4 linked regions of the Homo sapiens genome follow. The protein of the gene in region 1 interacts with the protein of each later gene in a pairwise test. Each region holds a gene or a part of one and is shown on either strand. Other genes may lie near its edges.

Evidence for each region.
Region 2: the proteins of DUSP29 (region 1) and C17orf75 interact in binary tests that used the Homo sapiens proteins (3 or more experiments, as listed by UniProt).
Region 3: the proteins of DUSP29 (region 1) and ROR1 interact in a two-hybrid assay, tested with the Homo sapiens proteins (one study listed by BioGRID and IntAct).
Region 4: the proteins of DUSP29 (region 1) and CNTROB interact in binary tests that used the Homo sapiens proteins (3 or more experiments, as listed by UniProt).

Annotation. Positions count from the first base shown.
Region 1 is NC_000010.11:75,056,637-75,063,670, reverse strand, and holds part of DUSP29 (dual specificity phosphatase 29), read left to right. Parts: intron 1-5,122; 5' UTR 5,123-5,156; coding exon 5,157-5,356; intron 5,357-7,034. UniProt on the Homo sapiens protein: Dual specificity phosphatase able to dephosphorylate phosphotyrosine, phosphoserine and phosphothreonine residues within the same substrate, with a preference for phosphotyrosine as a substrate. Involved in the modulation of intracellular signaling cascades.
Region 2 is NC_000017.11:32,327,910-32,332,176, reverse strand, and holds the end of C17orf75 (protein Njmu-R1), read left to right. Parts: intron 1-198; coding exon 199-414; 3' UTR 415-3,736; downstream 3,737-4,267. UniProt on the Homo sapiens protein: As component of the WDR11 complex acts together with TBC1D23 to facilitate the golgin-mediated capture of vesicles generated using AP-1. May have a role in spermatogenesis.
Region 3 is NC_000001.11:64,043,015-64,050,048, reverse strand, and holds part of ROR1 (inactive tyrosine-protein kinase transmembrane receptor ROR1 isoform 1 precursor), read right to left. Parts: intron 359-7,034; coding exon 71-358; intron 1-70. UniProt on the Homo sapiens protein: Has very low kinase activity in vitro and is unlikely to function as a tyrosine kinase in vivo. Receptor for ligand WNT5A which activate downstream NFkB signaling pathway and may result in the inhibition of WNT3A-mediated signaling.
Region 4 is NC_000017.11:7,942,185-7,949,218, reverse strand, and holds part of CNTROB (centrobin), read right to left. Parts: intron 5,829-7,034; coding exon 5,695-5,828; intron 5,097-5,694; coding exon 4,971-5,096; intron 4,744-4,970; coding exon 4,581-4,743; intron 3,492-4,580; coding exon 3,233-3,491; intron 1,853-3,232; coding exon of another isoform or gene 1,719-1,852; exon of another isoform or gene 1,659-1,718; intron 1,649-1,658; coding exon 1,497-1,648; intron 1,304-1,496; coding exon 1,240-1,303; intron 1,063-1,239; coding exon 892-1,062; intron 733-891; coding exon 600-732; coding exon of another isoform or gene 534-599; intron 138-533; coding exon of another isoform or gene 135-137; coding exon 62-134; intron 1-61. UniProt on the Homo sapiens protein: Required for centriole duplication. Inhibition of centriole duplication leading to defects in cytokinesis.

The sequences.
Region 1 (7,034 bases):
CAAGAGGGAGGAGAACCAGTGAAGGATGTGTAAGCGAGCAGAGTCCCACTCTGGGCAACTGGAGCTCCAACACACGGGCCAGCCTCCAGGAGACTGTGCAGGACATATTTCAAAAGTGGTCCACTCAGGGTTGAGGAAGTGGGGATGTTTATCCACCAACTCCTGCCTCTAATTGGTGACAACTTCTGGGGGATGTTAACTCCACATACTGCAGGCCTGACCAGCACAAGGACTAGAAAATGCCCTCAAGCAGGAAAACAGGCATCTGAGGTAGGAAGGCTTTTATGTATATAAAGAACTGTCCACTTCTGCTGCAGTGACTTGAGCTGAGGAGGCACCTGTAGGCACCTGTAGTAGATGCTATCCTTGTAACAGGGCAAGAATAGCATCGATTACAGGGGCTTACATTTAAAAATCAATAGATTTCTCACAACAATCTATGAGGATCATAAAAATACCAGAAAATCTGGGCTTGCATTCCCACATGGGACAGCAAGCTGCTGCCCCCTTAATGGAGGCATATGCTCCCTGATGTGCCACACTCCCCACCACTCCCTAATGTCTCTTGCCTGAGGCCAACAGCCAGGTTTTTGTTTGTTTACTTTTTAACACCCAACCTACTTCCTTCCTCTATGTTATCTGCCTGGCCCCTCCCTGAAGGAGCCTGAGTTTGTCACCTTTTAAGGAGGAGACAGGCTGCCATTGCATGTAGGCCAAGTCGTCTCGGAGACAGCATTTGATTTCCTGGGACCAAATCTTTAAATATGAAGCTGTAACAGGAACCTGGGGGCCTCTCTTGACAGCCTGCCCAGCTCTCATTATGACATTTAGCCTGTGATTGATATTGTGTGTGTCATTGAGACCTTGGCAGTTAATCTCTGGGTCGAATCTATGGAAACCAAACAGAACAGATTTGTCTTCCCTTCCATGTTGGCTGTGATCTGGGAAACAGATGCTCCTGGCCTCTCTGAGAATTAGAGAGTTGGGAGCCATGCAGAGAGGGTGCACACAGGCCGCCTTCAGGATTTGGAAAGATTACAGGTCTGTGGTTTCTGGACGGTTCCACACTTTGTTCTCTTTCCCCATCAAATCTGCGTGCTGGAGGATAATAGATCCCAGGGCTCACTCTGCGTGCCAAGCTCCTCGGGGTAGACCGCACCACTTCCTCCTTTGTCTGGAAATCCAGCCGAGGCTTTCAGCACAGAGATGGAGACGGGGATGGTTCCCTCCACAGTGTAATGAAGGAAGAATGGCCTCACCAAGGGTGAGGTCAGCTTCAGTGATCAAAGGAGGCAGACGGAGGTTTCAGAACGGAATTGACTCTAGCGTCTCCCGAAAATCACCTCTTCTGAAGCTTCCATTAACCGCAGGCAGGGTTCAAGATGGCCTAAACCACCTTTAGGTGTATGGTGCCCAGCTTCTACTCACTTCGAACAAGAAGAGTGGGTGCCATGGACGAGCTGAGCTTCACACCTTTAGACACTGTGGGCCTGAAGCAAGGAGGGCTATAACTACGTATGCTCTTAGGGGACTGAAAGGTCTGGGCTCGTTTCTGTGAGAAAGATTTCTGGCCACTCCTTAAAATAATTTCTTCCTTCCTGACTGGAAACACAGCAGGCAGGCCCCAGAATAGAGTTTGGGCCTGAATGACCACCCGTGGGGGAGGGCAGCCCACCCTGCGCCTGCAGTCCCCTCACCTTCTCCCTCCTCCAAATCAGCCTGGAGGCTCAGTCCTGCCTTAGCAGCTCTTGCTGAGCCCCTTGCACAGGCCTCACAGCCCTTAATCATTCCTTCACCCCTCAGTCACTCATTCACTCATTCCATTCATTCACTAAGCCACTTCCTCATCCAACCCATATCTCCTGAGCACCTCTTACGTGCCAGACACCAAGGCTACAGAGAGAAGCCACACTCAGGAGCCCCGAAGCAAGGTCCTCTCTCCTCCCAGCCTGCAGCTGCATTCTGGGCCAAAGACCGGGCCTCCCACCCCACTGGGACAGCGGGAGGCATTTTGAATGAGCACCCTCACTACCTTTCCCTTGACTCCGCAGCACCCTGGCTCTCTAGCCACATCTCAGACAATTATTATCAAACTTTACTAAGCGTCAGACTCACTTCGGAGCTCATTGAGATACAGATGCCTGCGCCCCTACGAGGGTGCAGCCCGGATATCTGTATTTTTGGTTAGTGCCAGGTGACTCTGACAGACGTGGTCTTCAGACCACACTTTGAGAGACTTCACAGGAGGGTCCCCTTTGCTGCCTATTGCCCTCTCCACACTTCACCAGGAAGCAGGAAGTTGTTGGAGGAAGTCACAAACCCTGGCTTCCCACAATCCCTACAGACACTCATGGCTAGCTAGTGATCCTTTAAGTCATCTGCTATGGACTTGGGAGAATCCAATTCCCCAAAGCAGTGGTCTCAACCCTTTCCTTTTAAATTTCTATCATGGAGAATTTCAAACACACCTGAAGAGAAACAGCAACTGGCCAGGTGTGATGGCTCACACCTGTAATCCCAACACTTTGGGAAGCTGAGGTGGGAGGATCACTTGAGCTCAGGAGTTCGAGACCAGCTTGGCCAACATAGCGAGACCTCATCTCTATTTTAAAAAAGGAAAAAAGAGAAACAACAACTACCTTATAACCATCATCCAGCCCCAATCACCATCACTCATAGCCAGCCCATCTCATTCACACCTACATCAATACCTTGCCCCAACATTATATTATTTATATTTTCCAACTATATTATTTTTGAAGCAAATATTTCAGTATGTTTTTCTAAAAGATAAGGCCCTGTGGTATAACGTAACTGTCCTCGGAATCTCCAGCAAGTCGGCTGATAGATATAGACCTCTTTGGTGAGATGATTCCCGCCATGGTGGTGTGCTCTTCTATTCGAAGGCATATGATGTCTGACCATCTCTTCTTATTCATACGTGGCTGGCAGTTTATGCTCAGTCTCTGGATGCAGCAACTCATCAGGTGGTGTAAAATGGTGCTTCCTTCTTTATTCATTATCTGGAATACTTCTATAAAAGAACATTTCCCGTATCAACCCAGTAGTATATAGTTTGTAAAAGAGAGAAGCAATACATGCAGATTCTTCTCCTTTATCTATCCATCTTCAAAATAAGGAGCTGGTTCCCAAACATCTTCCAACCGTGCATAATAAGTTTTGGGTTTTTTTTTTTTTTTTTATAAGGTCTCACTGTGTTGCCCAGGAGAGCAGTGATATGATCTTGGCTCACTATAGCCTCAGCCTCCTGGGCTCCAGTGGTCCTCCCACCTCAGCCTCAGCCTCCTGAGTAGCTGGGACTACAGGCATGCACCACCACACCCAGCTAATTTTTGCATTTTTTTGTAGAGATGGGTTTTGTCATGTTGCTCAGGCTGGTCTTGAACTCCTGGGCTCATGCAATCTGCCCACCTCAGCCTCCCAGAGTGCTGGGATTACAGGCATAAGCCACTGCTCCCGGACTGTTTTCAGTATTATTATTATTATTTTGAGATGGAGTTTCACTCTTGTTGCCCAGGCTGGAGTGCAGTGGTGCGATCTCAGCTCACTGCAACCTCTGCCTCCTAGGTTCAAGCGATTCTCCTGCCTCAGCCTCCCAAGTAGCTGGGATTACAGGCACCCGCCACTACACCCGGCTAATTTTTTGTATTTTTAGTAGAGATGGGGTTTCGCCATGTTAGGCAGTCTGGTCTTGAACTCCTGACCTCAGGTGATCTGCCCGCCTCGGCCTCCCAAAGTGCTGGGATTACAGGCATGAGCCACCGCGCCTGGCCTTCAGTATTATTATGACCTAAGTGTTTGATGTGTTTTGATCCACTGGAATTATTTTTATTTTTCATGTTCAAATTGTTCCAGTTTTGATAAGTGGAAGCTTCTTCAAGTTGTATTCTGAGTCCCTTTGACATGTTCCTAATGGTCTTTGAAGCCATGAACCCTTTCCTACATTCTCTGCATCCCCGGCCTGCCCCTCCTCACACTGCACCTCCCATCTCCCTCCCCCTGACACTAAGACCCTGTGCTACAGACAGCCTCAATTCATGATCCTCCTTATCTGTAAAATGGGGCTAATGATAGGGTATTAGGATAACCCTATCTCAGTGTTGTTAAGATTAAATGGGCTTACAATCATCAAGCACTTGGAATAGTGTCTGGCACACAATAGGTGTTATATAAGTATTTGTCAAATAAATAAACAAATAGCATTCACCTCCATGGTTCTCAGTCTTCCCACCTTTTCCTCCTTCTCTCCAGTCTCCTTTCCCAGGCTGACCATAGGTGCATCATTTACTCAGCTCAGGAAACAATCAATGTCCAATTCCACTGCAAATTCCTCTCCTTGGGGACAATGGAAAGTCCTCTCCCACATTCCACTGGCAGAGCCTAACAAGCTCTCCAAATGCACATTTCAGTCTCGAGGCACAGCTTTCTATCTTGGGGCATCTCTTCCAATCCCCTTGGTAAGTTAACACAGTGATGGCCAGGCTCCCAGTGTGAGAGTGTGAGCATTGCCTTCAGCTCTTCTGACAGGTTAACCCTCATGCAGCCAGGTTTCCTCCCCTCTCAAGGCTTCTGAAGTCCTGCTGATGTGCGTGTGGCCCAGACCCAGGCCCGGGCAGGTATGGCCTTGGCGATGTACTCTTTCCACTGGCTGACGGCTCCCTGCAGACACTGAGAGGGCCACAGGCCTGGAATGTCAGGAATCTTCTGGGCCTTCCTATTTTGGGTCCCAAATGGCCCAAACCAGTAGGTTTCAGTCAGATAAAGGAAAAAGTAGGAACCAAAGGAGTAAAGTCTAAAGAAAGGTGGGAAGGAACTGGCTGCTTGCAGGATTTCTTAGCTCCAGAGCCCGCCTTGGCCCACGTCCAAGGACCCCAGCTCTCCTTCTCTAGAAAGATTGGAACATTGGGGAAGTGTCATTTAACTGCCATCATGGCCTTCCTTGTTTACCTGTGTGGCCTGGGAAGAGGAAGCCGGGGCATAGCAGGTTGGGGAAACTCTTTCCAAATTTTAAGATAAGCTTATTCCCACCTCTTTTTGTAAAGCCTATTCCCTGCCTCAGTGTCCCCTGCTAACCCCCATCCTGCTTCTCTCTCATAACCAGCTGCAGAAAGGAGAGAAAATCCCTTGGCTCTAAAATGACATCTGGAGAAGTGAAGACAAGCCTCAAGAATGCCTACTCATCTGCCAAGAGGCTGTCGCCGAAGATGGAGGAGGAAGGGGAGGAGGAGGACTACTGCACCCCTGGAGCCTTTGAGCTGGAGCGGCTCTTCTGGAAGGGCAGTCCCCAGTACACCCACGTCAACGAGGTCTGGCCCAAGCTCTACATTGGCGATGAGTAAGTGCCCAGGCCCAGGCTCGCTTGGGAGCAGGCAGCAGCCCCTCCCCAGGCCACGCCCTGCGCCACCTCCTAGCCATGGGCTTTGGAATTTGTAGTCGTTCTGTGAGAACTCAATTAGTTAGGGCTGGGCTTGCCTTCACATTACAGAAAACCTAAACAAAGTCTTAGGCAAGATAGAGGTTTATTTCTCTCTCACATATAAGTGCAGAGGGAGGTGGGCTGGGGCTGGCACGGCCACTGCAGGGTCATCAGGGACTCAGACTCCTGTGTTTCTGCGCCACTGTCCTGGGGACGTGGCTTCTTCCCTCCAGGTGCTGCAGGGTCCCAGATTGCCGCCAGGACCCCAGCCATCAACTCTAGGACCCAGACAGCAGGAGGGTGGAGGGAAAGAAAGAGCAGAAGGGCATCTTCCGAAAGCAAAGTCCCATCCCAGACTTCCCCTGCCCCTAGCTGCAAGGGAGCCTGGGAAATGTAGTCTTTTATTTTAGCTAGCTATAATACCCTCAAGAATAAAATCAGTTCTTAGGTGGATGGTGCAGGAACACATCAATATATGCCTGGAAGTATGGGAGCCTAAATTTAGGTCACTGTCACCTCCTTTAGATTTTTATAACCACCATTCCCCACTCCCTACACAACTGAGATGCACCTACTGTAAATAATATTAATAATGATAACGACTATCCTTTCTTGAACACTGTATGCCAGGCATTGTGCTAAGCATCCTGCATGCATGATCTCATTTTACTCTCCTGATAACCCAGTGATAGAGGCTAATTACTCCCATTATAAAGATAGGGAAACTGAGGCACAGAGCAGTTAAATAACTGGCCCAAGTCCCACAGCTCAGTCAGTGGCAGAGAGCTGGGATTAAAATGCAGCTCTGCCCAACCCAGAGGCTTGTTCTTAACTGCTCCTCCCTCCACTCTCCCGGACTCCAGCCATGTTCCATCTCACCAAGGAGCAGATGCAGATGCTGTAGGACCCCTCCATATATTATTGTATTTATTTTTTTTCTTTTTCTTTTTTTTTCGAGACAGTCTCACCCTGTCACCCACGTTGAAGTGCAGGTTGGAGTGGTGTGACCTCGGCTCACTGCAACCTCTGCCTCCTGGGTTCAAGCAATCCTCTGTCTCAGCTTCCCAAGTAGCTGGGATTACAGGCACCTGCCTCCACACCTGGCTAATTTTTTATTTTTAGTAGAAACAGGGTTTCACCATGTTGGCCAGGCTGGTCTCCAACTCCTGACCTCAGTTGATCTGCCCACATCAGCCTCCCAAAGTGCCGGGATTAAAGGTGTGAGCCACCGTGCCCGGCCTATATGTGATTTTAATACATATCTTGCTGCTTAATACCTGGAGATAATCGTCTAGCCATAGGAAGATCCAGGGTAAGCATCCCTTGCCTTTCGTCTTTCTTTTTTTAAATTGAAAAAGTTACAAATATGACATGCTTAATTATACTAGGTTAAATGAGGTAGAGGGTTATAAAGACAAACTGCATAATCTCCCTTTGTCTCCTCTTAATTCTACCCCTGACTAACCAGTGTTAAATTTACTTGCATACTTCTACTACCTTGTGTGGGCTATTGCCAACATAAGGAAACATATACACACATATAAAGGGTTTACTTTTTTTTTTTTTTGAGATGGAGTCTCCCTCTGTCACCCAGGCT
Region 2 (4,267 bases), on another chromosome or scaffold:
GAGCGAAACAAGAAAAAAAAGGAGATTTTCTTCTTCTACCAAGGGCAAAGCATACTGCAATTTAAATTTTGGAAATATTTAATATGAAAAGCAAACAATTCAGGAAGATATGTTGAGTTCTCAGCTGGATAGGAGTTATTTTTTGAGCTTCATTATTATTTCACTTAACACATTTTTAACTGGGTAATCATTTTCTAGGCCATACAAGACACAAACAATTTGAAGAGATTTATCCGACAGGCAGAAATGAATCATTATGCTTTGTTTAAATGTTACATGTTCCTAAAGAACTGTGGTAGTGGAGATATACTTTTGAAGATTGTTAAAGTGGAACATGAAGAAATGCCTGAAGCCAAAAATGTGATAGCTGTCCTTGAAGAATTCATGAAAGAAGCTCTTGACCAAAGTTTTTGATCATATGTTTTGAGATAATTGTATGATCAAGTTGTATATTTAAGTCTTAGTGTTTGAAATTGCAGTTATAATTGTTCATAGGATTGCTATTTAAGATGATTTGAAACTCAATCCAGATTTTCTTTTTGTATTTTACCAATTTAACTTAAATAAAAATCTGAAGAACATCTTCACTGAGTCCTAGATAGATAATGTATGTGAGAGTTGTGAAATTTTAGTGTCTCACTGGCCCCATAAATTCCACGCTTCAGGAAGTTGTTGCTTAAAAAATTTCAGAGATGATTTTGTTTGTGGCTTTTCTCAGGAAAAGCCTGAGTTTGCTGCAGTATTTAGCAACTTTTCTTCTCAGAAAAACCATAATACTTCCTTTTCAGTGGACTGTAGCTTCTTAAAAAAAAAAATGTAATTCTAGTCTTAGAACAGATTAATACCACTACACCAGTTCAGAGATAGATCTGTGCATCCTGTGGGTGCTTGATACATTTTTTTGTCTAGTTGATAACGGCATGGATGATAAAGTCAGATTTTAAGTCAATATGCAAATCCTGAGTATGTAGAAAATTAAATGAGCTTTACAAATCGATGCACTAGCTTCAAGATAAAATATTATCTTTGAGCTGGGCGCAGTGGCTCAAGCCTGTAATCCCAGCACTTTGGGAGGCTGAGGCGGGCAGATCATGAGGTCAGGAGATCGAGACCATCCTGGCTAACACAGTGAAAGCCCGTCTCTACTAAAATACAAAAAATTAGCCGGGCATGGTGGCGGGCGCCTGTAGTCCCAGCTACTCTGGAGGCTGAGGCAGGAGAGTGGCGTGAACCCAGGAGGTGGAGCTTGCAGTGAGCCGAGATCGCGCCACTGCACTCCAGCCTGGGCGACAGAGCGAGACTCTGTCTCAAAAAAAAAAATAATTATCTCTGAGAGAAAGCTACTGCAGAAATCGCCTTCAGTCACCATTTCATTTATTTGTTCACAGGTATTTATGAAGAGCCTGTGTTTTCTTTTAGGTGAAAATGCTGGAGTTTTAAAACAGTGTTGAGAAAAGAAACAAAGTACATACAGTTTACAAGCAAACTGTAACATAAGGAATGCAAACAGTTTCTTCCTATTAGAGTTACTCATTGATTTTAGTTTTTTGTACATTTGTTACAAGCCTCAGATTGTTTTACTCTGAATCAATTGAAAGTGCCCTCAGCTAGCCATTTACAATTCCCATGGAAGCCTATGTAGCTACATACATACAATTGCAATTTGCTCGGGATAGCTCTTTAATAAATTCATTTGATAATGATTTTTGCTTAGAAGAACAGAAGTCTTGTGTTCTCACTTCCCTGAGGATGCTCAGAGGAGCACAAACCCATAAAACTGAGGAATCCTCTCTTAAATGGATCTAAATTCACATTAAGTGCTGAGTTTTAACTTTCAAAATGACTGACAATGGCCTTCTGCTTTCTCCTCTACATAAGCCTCGGGACATGACTCACATTTCTTTTCTTTTAATGAGAAATACAATTCAGAATCTTCATAAATGCTTTCATACGGTTTTAAACTTTAATAACTTGGAATGTAGGCAGTATAGAAAAAAATCTAAGTAGCATTTTTCATAGTATTAAAGTGAGAGTGGCTGGGCACGATGGCTCATGCCTGTAATCCCAGCACTTTGAGAGGCCGAGGCAGGTGGATCACCTGAGGTCAGGAGTTCCAGACCAGCCTGACCAATATGGTGAAACCCTGTCTCTACTAAAATTACAAAAATTAGCTGGGAACTGTGGCATGTGCCTGTAGTCCCAGCTACTTGGGAGGCTGAGGCAGGAGAATCGCTTGAACCCGGGAGGCAGAGATTGCGGTGAGCCGAGATCGCGCCACTGCATTCCAACCTGAGTGACAGAGCGAGACTCTGTCTCAAAAAAATAAAGTCAGGGTGACTAAGGAAAACCAGCAATTTTATGACACTGTCCTTGAATCTGACTGTCTTTTCCCAATGTAGTTGGTTCCCCACTTGGAAATCATTTTTTAAAGTAAGCTACATTAGCACATCAACGTTTTAAGTCTGAAAAAATACTTCATTTTCAAATTCATGTCATTCAAGAGTCTATGTTGTAAATGGCATTTAAAAGCAAATGTGTTACCTGCTTCAAATCATTTATGGATATAGGCAAGGTGTAATTACATATTCTCTGTGTGGTTGTATATATTTTTGTAATGTAGGCTCACTACATTACACAGCTCTATATGATAGTCTTATTTTATCTTTTTTTTTTTTTAATGAAATGGGGTCTCACTATGTTGCTCAGACTGGTCTTAAACTCTTGGACTCAAGCAATCCTCCCACCTTGGCCTCCCAAACTGAGCCACTGCACCCGGCCTCTGGTAGTCTTATTTTAAAAAAAGTAAGTCTGGGCTGGGTGTGGTGGCTCATGCCTGTAATCCCAGCACTTTGGGAGGCCTAGGCGGGCAGATCATGAGGTCAGGAGATCGAGACCATCCTGGCTAACACGGTGAAACCCCGTCTCTACTAAAAGTACAAAAAATTAGCCGGGCGTGGTGGCAGGCGTCTGTAGTTCCAGCTACTCGGGAGGCTGAGGCAGGAGAATGGCGTGAACCCGGGAGGCGGAGCTTGCAGTGAGTCGAGATCACACCACTGCACTCAAGCCTGGGCGACAGAGCGAGACTCCGTCTCAAAAAAAAAAAAAAAGTCTGACAAACTCTGTATCACTACTGTAGACAAGGAAAATGGTGTCATGGAACTGAATATCTTGGTCATGAGAAGAAACCACAGAGTTCATGACTAGAAACATGTACTGTATTCAAATTTTAATAAGCTACTATCTTGGCTTTTAAAGTTGTTTTTTTTTTTGTTTTTGTTTTATTTTTTAAGACAGAATCTCGCTCTGTCACCCAGGCTGGAGTGTGGTGGTGCAATCTTGGCTCACTGCAACCTCTGCCTCCCAGGTTCAAGTGATTCTCCTTCCTCAGCCTCCCCAGTAGCTGGGACTACAGGCATGTGCCACCATGCATGGCTAATTTTTTGTATTTTTAGTAGAGACGGGGTTTCACCGTGTTAGCCAGGATGGTCTCGATCTTCTCACCTTGTGATCCACCCGCCTTGGCCTCCCAAAGTGCCGGGATTACAGGCGTGAGCCACTGTGCCCAGCCAGCTTTTAAAGTTTTAAAAAGGATTTGTTCAGACATGGAATATATTTGTGTATATTACTTGTGTGCTGTACACACAGAGGAAATGTATGTTTGTCATGTATGAAGAATGGCTTCAGTTTCTCTGTAATTAATTTGTAATTATAATAATAAAACTTAGCTTCTCATCAAGACAGTTGTTTTTGTTTAATGAGCTCAGTCCTCAAGCCTAACATTTGTATTCCCAACAAGGTTGTGAGGAAATTATACTTGCTATACTAAGGAATTTGTTGAAGAAGATCAAATCACTTGCTGGGATACACACCTTTCTGCTTCTTGCAGGAGGCATCAAGCAGAATCTAAGAGCAATTTCCCTCACAATGTTTTATTCATTGTCCAGTAGAGTTATACTCATAGAACTCAATAACCCAAGTTACTTCCTTTCACTCTCATTCATTATTCACCATGACAGAATGCCTGTCCTCTACCAGAGGATCCCTTAGACCAGGTGCCAGGAAAGCCTGCGGGCTTCTTGGAAATAAGATGCAGTTACTAGGACCACACTTTCCTAACAGTGTGTCTTCTCACTTAATGGAAACCCTGCTGACTTCAATGAAGTCTTTCCACTTGGAGGTCTGAGAGGGCAGTCCAGTTCTCTTAATTGCTAAAGTTCCTAAATGTGGCTGGATGTGGTGGCTCAGGCCTGTAATCCCAGCACTTTGA
Region 3 (7,034 bases), on another chromosome or scaffold:
CTGTGGACTCTAGCCATCCTACCACATTGGGCTGAGGGCCAAAGTCCATCCCCAGTAGGGGTCTGCTTACCAAACTTGACAAACAAGACTCCAGTGGAAGAAACCACCTCCTTGCCGTTTGTTGCCACGCACTGGAAGTAGCCTGTGTCTGTGGTGTCGAGGTTTCTAATCCGCAGCCGAGAGCCATAGATGGTGGACCGAAAGGAGAGCCTCCGGGGCTCCTGGACCACAGGAGCATCATTTTTGAACCAGCGGATGGTGGGAGGTGGATTCCCAGAGACTTTGCAGTGCAGTTCTGCTGTCTGGCCCAGAGACGTGGTGATGTTATTCATTGGTTCATCGAGGGTCAGGTAAGAATCTGTGAGCACAGAGAGGAGGCAGGTGAGAGGGGCAGACAGCTTGAGAGGGCTTCCAAGCAGCCAAATCCCCTCCAGTGTACCCTTGGGATCACAGAGAGGCTGAGCAGGAGAGGCAGGTGAGACAGACAAGGAAAGAAACAATCACATTGATTAAGACCAGAGGACTGCTAAATAACCACCCATAGAGCCTGCTGCTTGGAAGAAAATTTGTCACTAATCAGAGTATAGAACCCAAAGTCTCCAAAAGACTACATGGATAAGCTTTTGTGCTTCAGATCAAAAAATCATATACACTCCTTGTTCCAAATTCCAGCATAGCAAAAGAGAGAAAATAAAGTTCACCTCAAATCTCCCCACCCAAAAATAACACCATTTTTAACATCCTGGCAAACATCCTTCCAGTTTGCTCACTTTTGATAAGAAAGAAAGCATCAAAAATTGGAAAAGTAGGAGCAACACATTCATATCCACATGGCACAAGATCAGAAAGGATGCCTGAAACTTTCATGTTACTGACAATATAAGGTTATGAAGGCCAGGTCAGAGGCAGACAGAGTAATAAAGCAATGGACATTTCCATAATATTACTGATATCAACCATAACATGTTACAATATGTAATTATTTTGATCACATATATATAGATTAATTCATATACAATACTGTGCAATATACAGATCTTAGTTATACAGTTCTATGAGTACAGGCAAATGCATATACTCATGTAACAAATGTCCCTATCTTGATAGAACATCAACAACCCAGAAAGTACCCCCACAATCTTTTGTAGTTGGTCCCTGCTCCCAACCACTCCCTCCCACCCCACCTTGAAGCAACTAAGGTTCTAATTTCTATTACCATAGGTTAATTTTGCCTGTTTCAGAACTTCATATAAATGGAATCATGCTGCATGTATATTTTGCTTTGGCTCCTCTTAAGATTTATTGCACTATGAATTTTAATAACAAAATAAGTTTTATTTAAGCTTATTCTTCAATCAAGTATTTAAACATCAATATTAATATTAGTTGTAGAATCCAATTGCAGATAAAATTATTTATTTATTTTTAATTAAGTTTGATTTCTTTTAAAAACGTGCTCTGTTATTCATGGGTAGGGAGCTTTCTTTGGTTTCATTTTTCCTAAGCACCCCTTCTTGGATAGATCCCCTGCCATACTTTCTCATTGTCCTATGTCCTTCCGTAGGTCCAAGTCTGGGGTAACTTGTTCAGCAGAGCTATCAGCCCCATAAGGGCAGGGATGGGAATGTTCTGGTCATCACTGCATCCTCAGTGTATACTACTGTCTAGCAGTGTTATCCACCAGAACTTTCTGCAATGATGGAAATGTTCTATAATCTGCACTGTCTGATTGATAGCCACTAGTCACACAGGGCTTACTGAATGCATGAAACATGGCTGGAGCAACTGAAAACTGAATTTTTAAATTTAAATAGCCACATGTGGCTAGTGGCTACTGTACTGGACAGCACAGGTAGAACGCCACAAATTTGTTGAATTTAATGGAAGTTTATTGAAAAGTAACATTTTTCTGAGCTATTTAACCGGGTAATTTAATTGCCCAAATGTCTGTAAAATGAGTTCATAAATGCTAAAAATAATTGATTCATTATTTGCTTTAATTTCCGTCCCCCCAAATTCAGAAGGAACATTGTTAATGTCTGGGCAGCCTCACAGGAGTGTGTCTCACATATGAATGGCATTTATCACATGTGCAGTAGGAAACAGATTAAGCATGACTACTGCATTACCATAATGACACTTTCCATCTCACTTAAGCCAATGAATAATTATCCTTCACAACAGATTCATGAGCCCATAAATGATCTTGCTAATGCTTTGCTTCCTAACATTTATATTTTGATCTCTATCTTTGGGCATGTTTCTCCAATCTATATACATCTATACTCAATCCACGAATGTGTTTGCTCATGGATATAAGCACATATGTTCCTAAGATGTTTGAGGTATGCCCAGAAAGGAGGGAGACTAATTAGCAGATGGCTCTATGGAGCCATTATCATGCCTTTATAGCCCCATATCATTCATTGAGAATAGATAACTATGTACCCTTTGTGGAGAGAAACTTAGAGATAGCAATCACATAACAATGCCACTATAAGCATAGTGATTAATACTGCATTGGACAGGTTCTGGAATTTGATTGGCTGGGTTTGAATTCAGGTCAGCCCCTTGCCTATCTGTGTGACTTTGGGCAAGTTACTTAACCTCTTTGTACCTCAGTTTAACCAACGGAAAAACCAAAATAATAAACAGGGCTCCATCTGAGGGAACTGTTAGAAGAGGATTAAAATGAAAGTGAGTGACATCTGGGAAGCACTTCAACCAGTGTTTGGCAAAAAGTAAGCACTCAAAAATGTTAATTAATGTTGTTACTATTGTTTTTATAACAATAACTTCTGTATACCACTTTTCACATGACAAAATGTTTTCACAGCCTCTGTCTCCTGTTATCCTCTAACAATCTAGAGAAGTAAGAAAGGCACATTAATTACTATGATTTCCAGTGCAGATGAGGAAGTCATGTCTCAGAGATTAGCAGACTTGCCCCATGGTTACTCAGGAAACTGCCCAAAGCTTCCATCACTAATGGCCTTTAATCCTCAGGCTCAGCCAAGCACCTAAAGAAAGTCCATTTGAGGCAGCTGGCCAGTTCTGGACCAATAATGGACTATTTTGAAATCCTACTATATGCTAGGGCTTTACTTTAGTATTCACCTGTATGCTAACTTTGCAAGGGAGAAGTCATTATCACTGTTTTACAATGAGGAAACCTAGGATCAGAGTGGTTTAGTGACTTGCCGGAGGCCTTGTGGCAGAACTGAGGTCCAATTTACATCTCTCTGGCTGCCAAGCCCAAATCTTTTCACTCCACCAGTCTGCTTTGGTACCATGAGACCCATTGAGGGCTGAGATTTGGTACCATGAGACCCATGGAGAGTTGGAATATCTCCCTAAACCAAGGTGGGCCGTGGACACACATATACCCACAGGGTTGTGCTCTTCCCCTAACTTCAGCCAAGACTGTCTGGTTAATGGGCCTAAGCTTTAGCCATGGGTGCTGGCTGATGTTCTTTCTGGTTTCCCTCCAGAGGCCAGGCACCTCACCTGATCTGCTCTATAAAATATCTATCTAAAAACAACATGAGGGTTGCAGGGCACCTTGAAATCAGTGTAGTAGATGACCCAAGCAGTGTGTTTCCAGAGAGAACAAAAGAAATGTAAATAGATCTTTGTGTTTACTGAACAAAGGAGCCTTGCCACAAACAGGGAATTTGGTTTTAACTTTTCACTGACGAAGAAGAAGTTTCAAATTTGTTGGCCATCTGTAGCTGCTTACTTAGTAAGCAGAACGAGAACACCTGGGCATCCCAGCAAAGGTGTCCAGTCCAGAGGGAATTCACACTAGACTCAAGTAGCAGTTCTGCCACTCTCTAGCGATGTGTGTCAGACCATCACTTCACCTCCCTGGGCTTTGGATTCATAATCTGGGCCTTTGGGGTTGGGTCTGCTTCTTCTGAGACAGTTTGTGTTTCTATATGGGCAGCTGCAGAACAACTGGATGACAGGCAGCAGGTGTCCAGTGAGCTTGAATGCCAGACAAAGCAATCTGGCTTTTATGTGTAAACCTGGCTGTTTGTACCTTTTTCAATGGTTTGATTCAGTAGCTCTGATGATATGTGCTTGAGCTATGGAAGATTTCTCATCTTTTTTTCCCTTCTTCCCTAGACTGCAAATGTCAAGATGGCAGATGGTAAGTGGGAGGTAGGGTATAGTCTGGCTTAAGGGAAAAGTTCCAGTCCCACTGAATCCACCTCTAGCTCTGTGTCCCTGAACAAATGATGCCTTCCAGTGCTAATACTAGTAATAATGATGATGATGACACTGACAACAATAATGATTTCATAATGATGGTGGTAATACCTAACACCTAAATGGTATTTATCATCATGACAGTTATTGTTATGAACATTTTACACATGGAAAACAGAGAGGGTAAGGCACAGAGAGGGTAAGAAAGTTGTCCAAGATCACACAGACAGTAAGTAGAAGTGAGATTTTAAACAAATTATTTTGGCTCCAGAGTCCATGCTGTAGGATAGAAGTTCTCAAATTCTTTGGTCTCAGGACTCCTAGATAATCCTTAAAATATTGATGCCACTGAGGGGAGAAAGTTTTAAAATATTTGTTTATTAACCTATTTAAAAATAAAAACAATCCCATTGCTTAACATAAATATTTTAATAAAATATTTAGTAAAATAATATTTTCCACACGCGTATACCAAAAATAGTGAGAAAAGTGGCATTTTTTTTTTATTATTGAATATCTATTATTGTCTTAAAACCAGACAGCTGAAGCCTCCTGTTTCAGCATTCAATCTGTTGAGGTATGTTGTTTTAGTTGAAGAAAATCTGGCTTCGCACAGTTGGAAAAGGGAAGGGTTTTTAATAGTCTTTCAGATAATTTAGGATATTCTTCTTTGATACTACACCAAAATTCGATAGGTGGTAGTTTCTTAAACGTTGGTTGCAATGTGAAATCTGAAATCATATCAATAAACTTTTCATAATCTATTAAATTATAATGGATTGATTTATCTTGTACTTTGAATGGTTATTCTACCTACATACGATTTTGTAACATCATGCATTGCCTGTTTAGAGAACACTGGTTTACTGAGTTACGTTCGTTTTCAAAATGTGGACACCCTTACTTATCTAATATAGAAAATTCAAATGCATTAATATCACCACCAGTGCCATCAGTTATGATTGGGAAGAAGTTGTCAAGCTCGTGATGGTGGCTAAAAGTTTCGCAAAATTCTAACTTTTTCTGGAAAGTTCAAATTTTATTATTGGCAATTAATACTACTGTTTCCTTCAAGCGGCAGGTTCATTTTCCTCATTTTAAAGAATATTCAAGAATAACTAACCATAATTTTTCTGTCGGTCATTCTTTAAAGTAAAAGTGGCTAGTTCAGCTCAGAACTCAAATGCTTTTCTTTGAGACAGTCATAGTACTTGGCAGGAGTACTTTACGTATACTGCCCATCTGCCATATGAAATATTAAAAATCTATGTATTCAAGGGTCAAGATTTAATACAATTAATAATTTTTACTGCTCCATGGAAGATATTCTTAAGTGCAATTGGCTTTTTTTTTCTTTTCAACTACAAGTATATGGCAGTGGAATGTACAGTGACCACTAGTTTGGTACCGTTGGTGCCATTGTCTGAATTTGTTTGAGCAGTTTCACCCACCATTGCTTTTGCACAATTAGGATGGGTAAACCGCAGTTCAGAGGACTTAACAGCCTATCCCAGAGTTCACAGCTAATAAAAGGCAAAGCCAGGATTTGGACACCAAGCCCAGCGCTGTTTCCATCACACTCCATAGCTGCCCTTTCCCAGCCCTCAGGGTCCTAGACTGGTGTAAGGCTTTCAGAACAAAATGGGTTAGCTCAGGCCCTGAACGGTATGAGTCAGAGAGCAGAGTGGCTTGGATGGCATGTTTTCTATTTCCGAACAAGCAGTTTGGGGCTTTGGGGCAATCCCAAGCGATTGTGTCAGATCTGGGCAAAAGTTTAGGACTCTGAATTAAAAAGGATTTGTTACCTTTACAATGTAGGAAAATGAAATGCCAGTATCCTTTTAGTGCCACCATCTTCTCCCATTAACAATGGAAAGTGATGATCATAGCTAACATTTTTCTGAGCATTTACAAAATGCCAGGCACTATTCTGAGCATCTTACACACTTTAATTTAAACTTGACAACAATCCTATGAGGTAGACTCTAAAACTGACCACATTTTAGAGATAAGGAAACTGAGACACAGAGAAGTTAAGGAATTTCCCAAAGTCACACAGCCAGAAAGCGGCAGAGCCAGGACCCAAACCCACGCCTTTGAACAGCAGAGACCATATTATGTTCTGATGCAATCAGATTCCCAATCAATCCAACCTGTAGTCTTTCATTGTCCTTTGCACCACTCATAACCTGAACTAAAAAATATTCTTGCCTTTTTATGAGTCCATCAAGCATGTGACAATACCCACTGGTACTGAAAACAACTAAATCACCACTAGTTGCTTATGACGTAACTGGAAGTCATCATTGAGAATGAGCTTTTTAAATACAGTGCAGGCATGGTCTGTACTGAGGCTTAATGAACCAGAAAAAGCAAACTGCAAGAAAAAAGTTATTTTATGACCTCTCTGGGAATTGAGACTCTATTTCCTCCTTTTTACATTTTTTGTATTCCCCTCAGCACTTCATGTGTTATTGTGAACTTCATAGGCATTTAATAAACGCTGGTTGATGAAGTAAATGGAAGGCTCAAGTGAATTTTAGGCAAATTAGCTTTGGAGACACCCCATTTATTATTTACCCACTTGACAAGATGTCACATCCACAAATCCACAAATCCTTCCCAACATTTATTACTTAATTTTCAAAGTGCCCCCATCTCTCCTCAGGGAGGAAGGTGGGGCCAAGTGTTATATTCCCATTTTGACAGGTGAGAGAAACTGAGATATAAAGAGTTGAGCAGTCCATTGCCATGGCAACCCAGCCAGTCAGCCGAGGAGCCAGTCACAATTAGGTTTAGGGCCTGGGTCTTGGTATCAAAAG
Region 4 (7,034 bases), on another chromosome or scaffold:
GTGAAGGAGCTGGTCAGTGAGAGCCCTTTTCTCCCCTGGTCCCTGCCTGACTTTCCCTCACCTCTTTCCGGGGGATCTCACCCAAGCGGGAGTCTGTGTTCCTTCTGGGGACATTATCCCCTCGGCCATCAGTCCTGCTACACAAATCAAAGGTATGAGGATGGGGATCTCCGTCCCCCCGGTTACCCAATACTGGATGGAAGAACTACTCCCCAATTCTATCTCTTAAGAATAAGATCAAACTCGATAGACCTGGGCATCAACTGGGAGGAGACATTAGTGGAAGTAAATAACGAGTTACACTAGCTAGTCAAAAGTCTAGGATTCTGAGTTTTGAGCTGAGGGGTAAAGAGGAAAAAAACGAAGGTAGAGAGACCCGGGGAAAAGATTTTTTTGTTTAGAAGAAAAAAGCAATAGAAAGGAGGAGATAAAAGAAAAGTGTGGGGCAGTTAGAGAAGATCTGTGGATCCACCTCTCATCCTTCACTTTCCTCCCCAGAAAAGGACAACGATTCAATTCAGTGTAAAACACACCCACTCCACTCCCCATAATCCAGCTTCCACCCGGAGAATCCTTCCTCCTTCCTCCCAGGCTTGTACCCGCTGTGTTCCAGCCTCTTCAGGTAGAGCAGGAGATCCTCAGCAGGCAGAGCCCCCCAGCCCCGAGCCTGGTAGAGTCGCAACAGTTGAGACACCTCCATCAGCTGCCTTGGGAATGTAAGCCCATCTCCACCTGACAGACATCGCAATAATCACAGGCGTCATCCTAGGGCCTGTCTCCCCAGCCCTCAGCCCATTTCCCCAGGAATTCAGAAGGACTGTAAGTGCCTGTACTGGATCCACACTCAGGACTGTCCCTCCTTTTTTCCCTAATAAACCAGAACATGCTCACCTCTCTCTGGGGAACCACTGCTGGGACCACTGCCTTGTGAATGGGAGGAGGGAGGCTCAGGGACCCGGAAAAGACTGGATGCCATGGCTAAGGGAACTTTGGTTTTGTGGACAGGCGGTGGAATACGTGGCACTTGAGGGGCTTCCTCCCAAGATGGGACAGTCAGAGGACCTAGCAAAAGGAAAGAATGCCAAGAATCAGGAAATGGGGCATAGAACCAAGGAAGTCCCACCACCCAGCATTTATAAGGCTTTATTACTTTTGCCAGCTCCTAAAAATTCATCCTAGATAACCAACTCCGATCTTTCCTAGGCCCCAGCCCCAACCTTCTTCAGAGTTGGAACTCACCAGACTTAGGGGGCAACAGGTCGACAGAAGGGTTCTCATTGTTCTGGGGCACTGTCTCCAGCAACTGTGGGTGAATAAGATTGTCAAGTTCCCTAGGGACTGATAGAGAAAAACGCCCAGGGATCTGAGAGAAGAAGCTGGGACAAAGAGTTAGTCATAAACAGGGAATGAGGCCAGAGTCCTGGATTCCCAGAGCAGAAAGAGGAAAGGAGAAAGGGAAGAAGAAAGTGAGCTAGTCTGGGTGGAATCTCTCTTACCTGGTGCAAAAAATTCTTGAGGCCCTCCAGCTGAGCAGGCGGCAGCCCTTGCTTTAGGAGGCCCTCCCCGTCAGGTCCAGGATCTTCCTCAGGGAATGGCCTTTCTGCCCTATGATCGGGATGGAAGGCCCCAAGTGCAGAGAAGGCCCCAGCTATAAAGTGAAACAGGTATGGGTGGGTGCAAGTGTGTTCAGGGGGGAAGGGGCTTCTCCACAAATCAACTCACCTAATACTCAGAAGAAAGGGGCCTATTAAATGGAAGAGGAACATCACAGCTAAGAGAAGATGAAGATGGAGGTTTAAAGTAGCTGGAGAGGGAAGGGTTGGAGGTGACTGAGAGATGGCACAGCTGAATTCTAAGACAGAAATATAGACAGAAGAAAGCTGTGGTACTCAAACTCTAAACAAATAAATACCCTCACAAACTCCCTGAAGAATGGAAATGAGTAACACACATGTTCTGACCTCTTCCCCCGAATATGCCTCATTCTTTTATTATTCTCACATAATTAAAAAATTTTTAATTGTGCTACAACTAATCTCTCTTTTTTTTTTTTTTTTTGAGATGGAGTCTCGCTCTGTCGCCCAGGCTGAAGTGCAGCGGCGCGATCTCGGCTCACTGCAAGCTCCGCCTCCCGGGTTCACACCATTCTCCTGCCTCAGCCTCCCGAGTAGCTGGGACTACAGATGCCTGCCACCACGCCCGGCTAACTTTTTTGTATTTTTAGTAGAGACGGGGTTTCACTGTGTTAGCCAGGATGGTCTCGATATCCTGACCTTGTGATCTGCCCGCCTCGGCCTCCCAAAGTACTGGGATTACAGGCGTGAGCTGTAATCTCTTTTTTTTTTTTTTAAGAGACAGAGTCTTGCTGTGTTGCCCAGGCTAGAGTACAATGGCAACTTCTTAGCTCACTGTAGCCCCAAACTCCTTGGCTCAAGCAATCCTTCTGTCTCAGCCTCCCTGGGTAGCTGGAAATTTGGGTGTGTGCCACCACATCCTGCTAACTTTTTATTTTGTGTAGAGATGAGGTCTCACTATATGGGTCAGACTGGTCTGGAACTCCTGGCACCAAGCCATCCTCCCACCTCAGCCTCCCAACGCGCTAGCATTACAGGCGTGAGCCACTGCACCCGGCCCCATCCCTCATTTTTAATTCGACCTAGGTTGTCATGTTTGTACCACACAGAATGCCCCCATCCACTCAAATCACAGGTGACATTAAACTAGGGGTGGACACCACACCCAAGGTCAGCCAATCCAATCAGATGGCCTCTTTAAACTGGACCTAAAAAAACTGAGACACCGATGTCTCTATAAATGTCTAGAGGCTCAGCTAGAGTCAGTATCACAGCTGGTCAAACCCATGTGTAAACTGAAGTTATGAAGGGTGAGAACCTTGAATGCTGGTCTAGCAAGAAAAAAGAGCAGATGTGCAGGAGAGGTGGACCCAGGAGGCTATGCAGGCCCACAGAAAAGGGCCAGCTAGCTGCCTCAGTTCCTGATAGTACCCCGTTCCCAACTCCAGTTCTCATTAAGTCCAGCGATGTCATATTTCCATGAGATCTCAATCCCTTTATTTGGACCAATGTGAGCAGATTTCTGCTCCTTGCAACTTGCGATCACTAAAGGCATCTGGGAAACTAAATGCTCAAGTATCAGACAGAAAGCAGGGTACGAAAGAGGGAGCCAATTCATGCACAGAAGGGGAACCCCAGTGACTTCTGCCCCCAGTTACCTGTGGATGAAGTGAGGTCTGGTTTGGGCTCCAGGGGCTGGAAAGAATGCTGGCTCTGAAAAGAGGGGCCCAACAGGAGGCTAAGATCTGAGGAGGAACTGCAAAGAACAGGAGGCGCTCCAGGTAGCTCGTCCCTTGCTTCCCGGCTCTGCTGCAATACAGGCTTCAGGGCCACGGCCATGGGAGGCATAGTCCAGACCCTCCTCTCCTCCTTCTCGGGCTCCTGAGGCCCGGGGCTGGAGGGTCCAGCAGGAGGAGCCTGACCAGGAGAGAGGCAGAAAGAAGGGTCAAAGCACAGTAGGTTTAAAGAGATAAGACATGGTACAAACACTTTAATAAGATTATAAATTTCCGGATGCAGTGGCTCACACCTGTAATCCCAACACTTTGGGAGGACCGTTTGAGGCTGGCAGTTTGAACCAGGCTTGGCAACATAGAGAGATGCCATCTCTACAAAAAATTTAAAAATTAGCTGGGGGCAATGGCACGTGTGTGTAGTCCCAGCTACTCAGGAAGCTGAGGAAGGAAGATTGCTTGAGCGCTCTGGGCAACAGAGTGAGACCTTGTCTCAAATAAATAAATGATAAGTATATAAATAAATAAAATTAAAATTAAAATATCCTAATTTTTTCTTCTTTTTCTTTTTTTGAGATGAGGTCTCACTATGTTGCCTAGGCTAGTCTTGAACTCCTGAGCTCAAGTGATCCTTCTGCTTTAGCCTCCCATATAGCTGAGATTACAGGCGCACCACCACACCTGCTAGAATTTCATAATTAAAAGAAGGAAGTGGGAAGTATCAACGTATGAAGGGCTAGGAAGTGAGACTCCCTACTCTACTCTGGGGCAGGACTTGGCAACAATTTTTGGCCCTTTCCCTCATAATTAATTCAGCTGTCCCTCCACAAAACTAGTACCACGTATCATTTGTCCCCTCTTGGGACTGGGAGACTAGAGTTATGCCCAATGGAATGGGGCCAGTCTGAGTGAGCTATGGCCATGGAAAAAAGGATTTATTTTGCTGAGGCAGTTATTATTTGTAAAGTCCACCGATTTTTCTCCCCTGATGTAGGCCTTAGGAGCTGAACTTAGTACTTCCCTTGGGAGGGAGCTAGATTTCCAAAGAAGGAATCTAGAACACAGTTCTTGCTGGGCATGGTAGCTTATGCCTGGAATCCCAGCACTTTGGGAGTTAGAGGTGGGAGGATCACTTGAGCCCAGGAGTTCGAGGCTGCAATGAGCTATGATCTCACCAGTACACTCCAGCCTGGGCAAGAGTGAGACCCTGTCTCAAAAATAAAAATAAAAATAGAACATAACGGAGAAGCTTAGCTCAAGGGGTAAGGCGTACTGGAGGGTTGGGCGGCGGGAGAGTGGTGCTGAGCAGCTGGTTGGCCTCATCCCAGTGGGCCTGCAGCATGGCCTGCAGTCTTTCCACCAGCTCCACCCGCTGCTCCTCCAGCTGCTGGTTCCCACTCTGCAGTTCGCACACTCGCGCTTGCTCCCGGGCCAGTCTGAAGCAAAGAGAGAAGAAGTGACTCAGGGCCTTTAAGGAAGCAGATACTTGGGAGCTAAAAAGAGCCAGAAGGGAAATGTTGGACATCTGATATTCTGAAAGGAGCTGGGGCCCATGTAGAGGAGGACAGATCAATCAAGGGAGCAGCTCTTCACCGTTCCCAGTTTGGGCTCTACCCATGGGAAAGGGGCTGGGGCCTGAAAGGGGCACTCTGGGGACCAGGACCTGAGCTCGTAGTCCTCAGCCACCTGCTGTTGCCGTTCCTCTCGTTCTGCCATTTCCACCTTGAACTGAGCTAGCTGACTGGCCAGCTCCTGCTGGTGCTGTCCACTCAGGTCCTGCAGCTGCTTCCTACAGGGCACAGGTAGGAGAAGAGGCCTGAGACTGGAGACAGAAGAAGTGACCAACTGAGAAAAAGACATCATGTGTGCACATGACAGTGACCCAGATAGCCAGTCAGCTAGCCTGGCCATGGCACAGGAAGCGGCAAGGACAAAGCTGGGGTCTTAGGATGGGTTCCTCAGAAGCAGAGACTTAAATAAATTTATTTCGGAAGCAGTTCCAGAAAATCTCGGCAGCAGAATGGGTGTGAGGAGAAGTGAGGCCAGGCTGCGAGGAGGCTCAGTCCGACAGAGCAGCTCTGGAGACAGCACAGGTCATACCTCAGCACTGTCCCAGTGAGGGAGCTGGACCATCTATCATTCTGCACCCATCAGTTCTTGGTTAAGGGCTACTCCCTATGGGATGAAAATTCCCAGGCACTTCTGGCTCTCCATGAACGCGTGAAGGCAGCCCTCCCGAGAGAGACTCAGGTCCCAGCTGATGGGAGTTAGCGCACCCTGGGAGTCACAGTGCTGGACCATGGCAAAGGGATTGAAGGGAACACAGGCCTGGCACTAACGATACGTGCTGTGGCTGAGAGAAGTGACACCCAGTGAGTCCCACGTACCTGTGATGTTCCCTGAGGGAGGCTGCTTGCCGTAGGCTGCTCTCCTGAGCCTGCGCCAGCCGCTCTGTCACCCGCTGCTCCAGCTGCACAGCCAGCTCCGACTCCAGCTGGATCCGCTGGCTTTCATACCGGGCCTGGAGTGAAGGAAGGTGGGATAACGGCCCAAATCTGTTTGGGCTTAGAAGAGGATGGAGGATATAATGTAGACAAAATCCAGTACCAACTTTCCCCTCATATGAGATGAAGAACAAGAATTTTGCCTCAAGGAGTGAAAGAGGTTCCCTTTCCTTATTAAGATATTCGCACTTTAAACATACATCAAAGTGAAAATGACTATGGGTGAAAGACATAAATTTCTTAGCTAAAATAAATGTTCGACAGAGCAATCAAATCCATTCTACGTGTCTGATATAACATACCCTGAGGCTGGGCGCGGTGGCTCACGCCTGTAATCCTAGCACTTTGGGAGGCCGAGACGGGCGGATCACGAGGTCAGGAGATCGAGACCATCTTGGCTAACACGGTGAAACCCCGTTTCTACTAAAAATACAAAAAATTAGCCGGGCGTGTTGGCGGGCGCCTGTAGTCCCAGCTACTTGGGAGGCTGAGGCAGGAGAATGGCATGAACCTGGGAGGCGGAGCTTGCAGTGAGCCGAGATCGCGCCACTGCACTCCAACCTGGGAGACACAGCGAGACTCCGTCTCAAAAAAAAAAAAAAAAAAAAAAAAAAAAAAAATACCCTGAGTAGAGTACCTGAAAGCCAGTAGACATTCAATAAATGGCAGTGCCTCTTCCTCCTTAAGCAGTCAACCTATAAGTGTCTCCATTTTCTCAGCCACAGTCCTTCAACTCACTAAAATCTGATTTCCACGTATAGTATTTTACTATAAAGAACTCAACCTCTTTTTTTTTTTTTTTTTTTTTTTTGAGATGGAGTCCCTCTCTGTCACCCAGGCTGGAGTGCAGTGGCGCGATCTCGGCTCACTGCAACCTCTGCCTCCCGGGTTCAAGCAATTCTCCTGCATCAGCCTCCCAAGTAGCTGCAACTACAGGTGCGTGCCACCACGCCCAGCTAATTTTTTGTATTTTTAGTAGAGACGGGGTTTCACCGTGTTAGCCAGGATGGTCTCAATCTCCTGACCTCGTGATCCACCCGCCTCAGTCTCCCAAAGAGATTACAGGTGTGAGCCACCGCGCATGGCCCAAAGAACTCAATTTCTAAATCCAAATAGTGGTTATTTCTCAGCCCCTACTTCTGAGACAGAGTCTTGTTCTGTTGCTTAGCCTAAAGTGCAGTGGTGTGATCATGGCTCACTGCAGTCTTGACCTCCCAGACTCA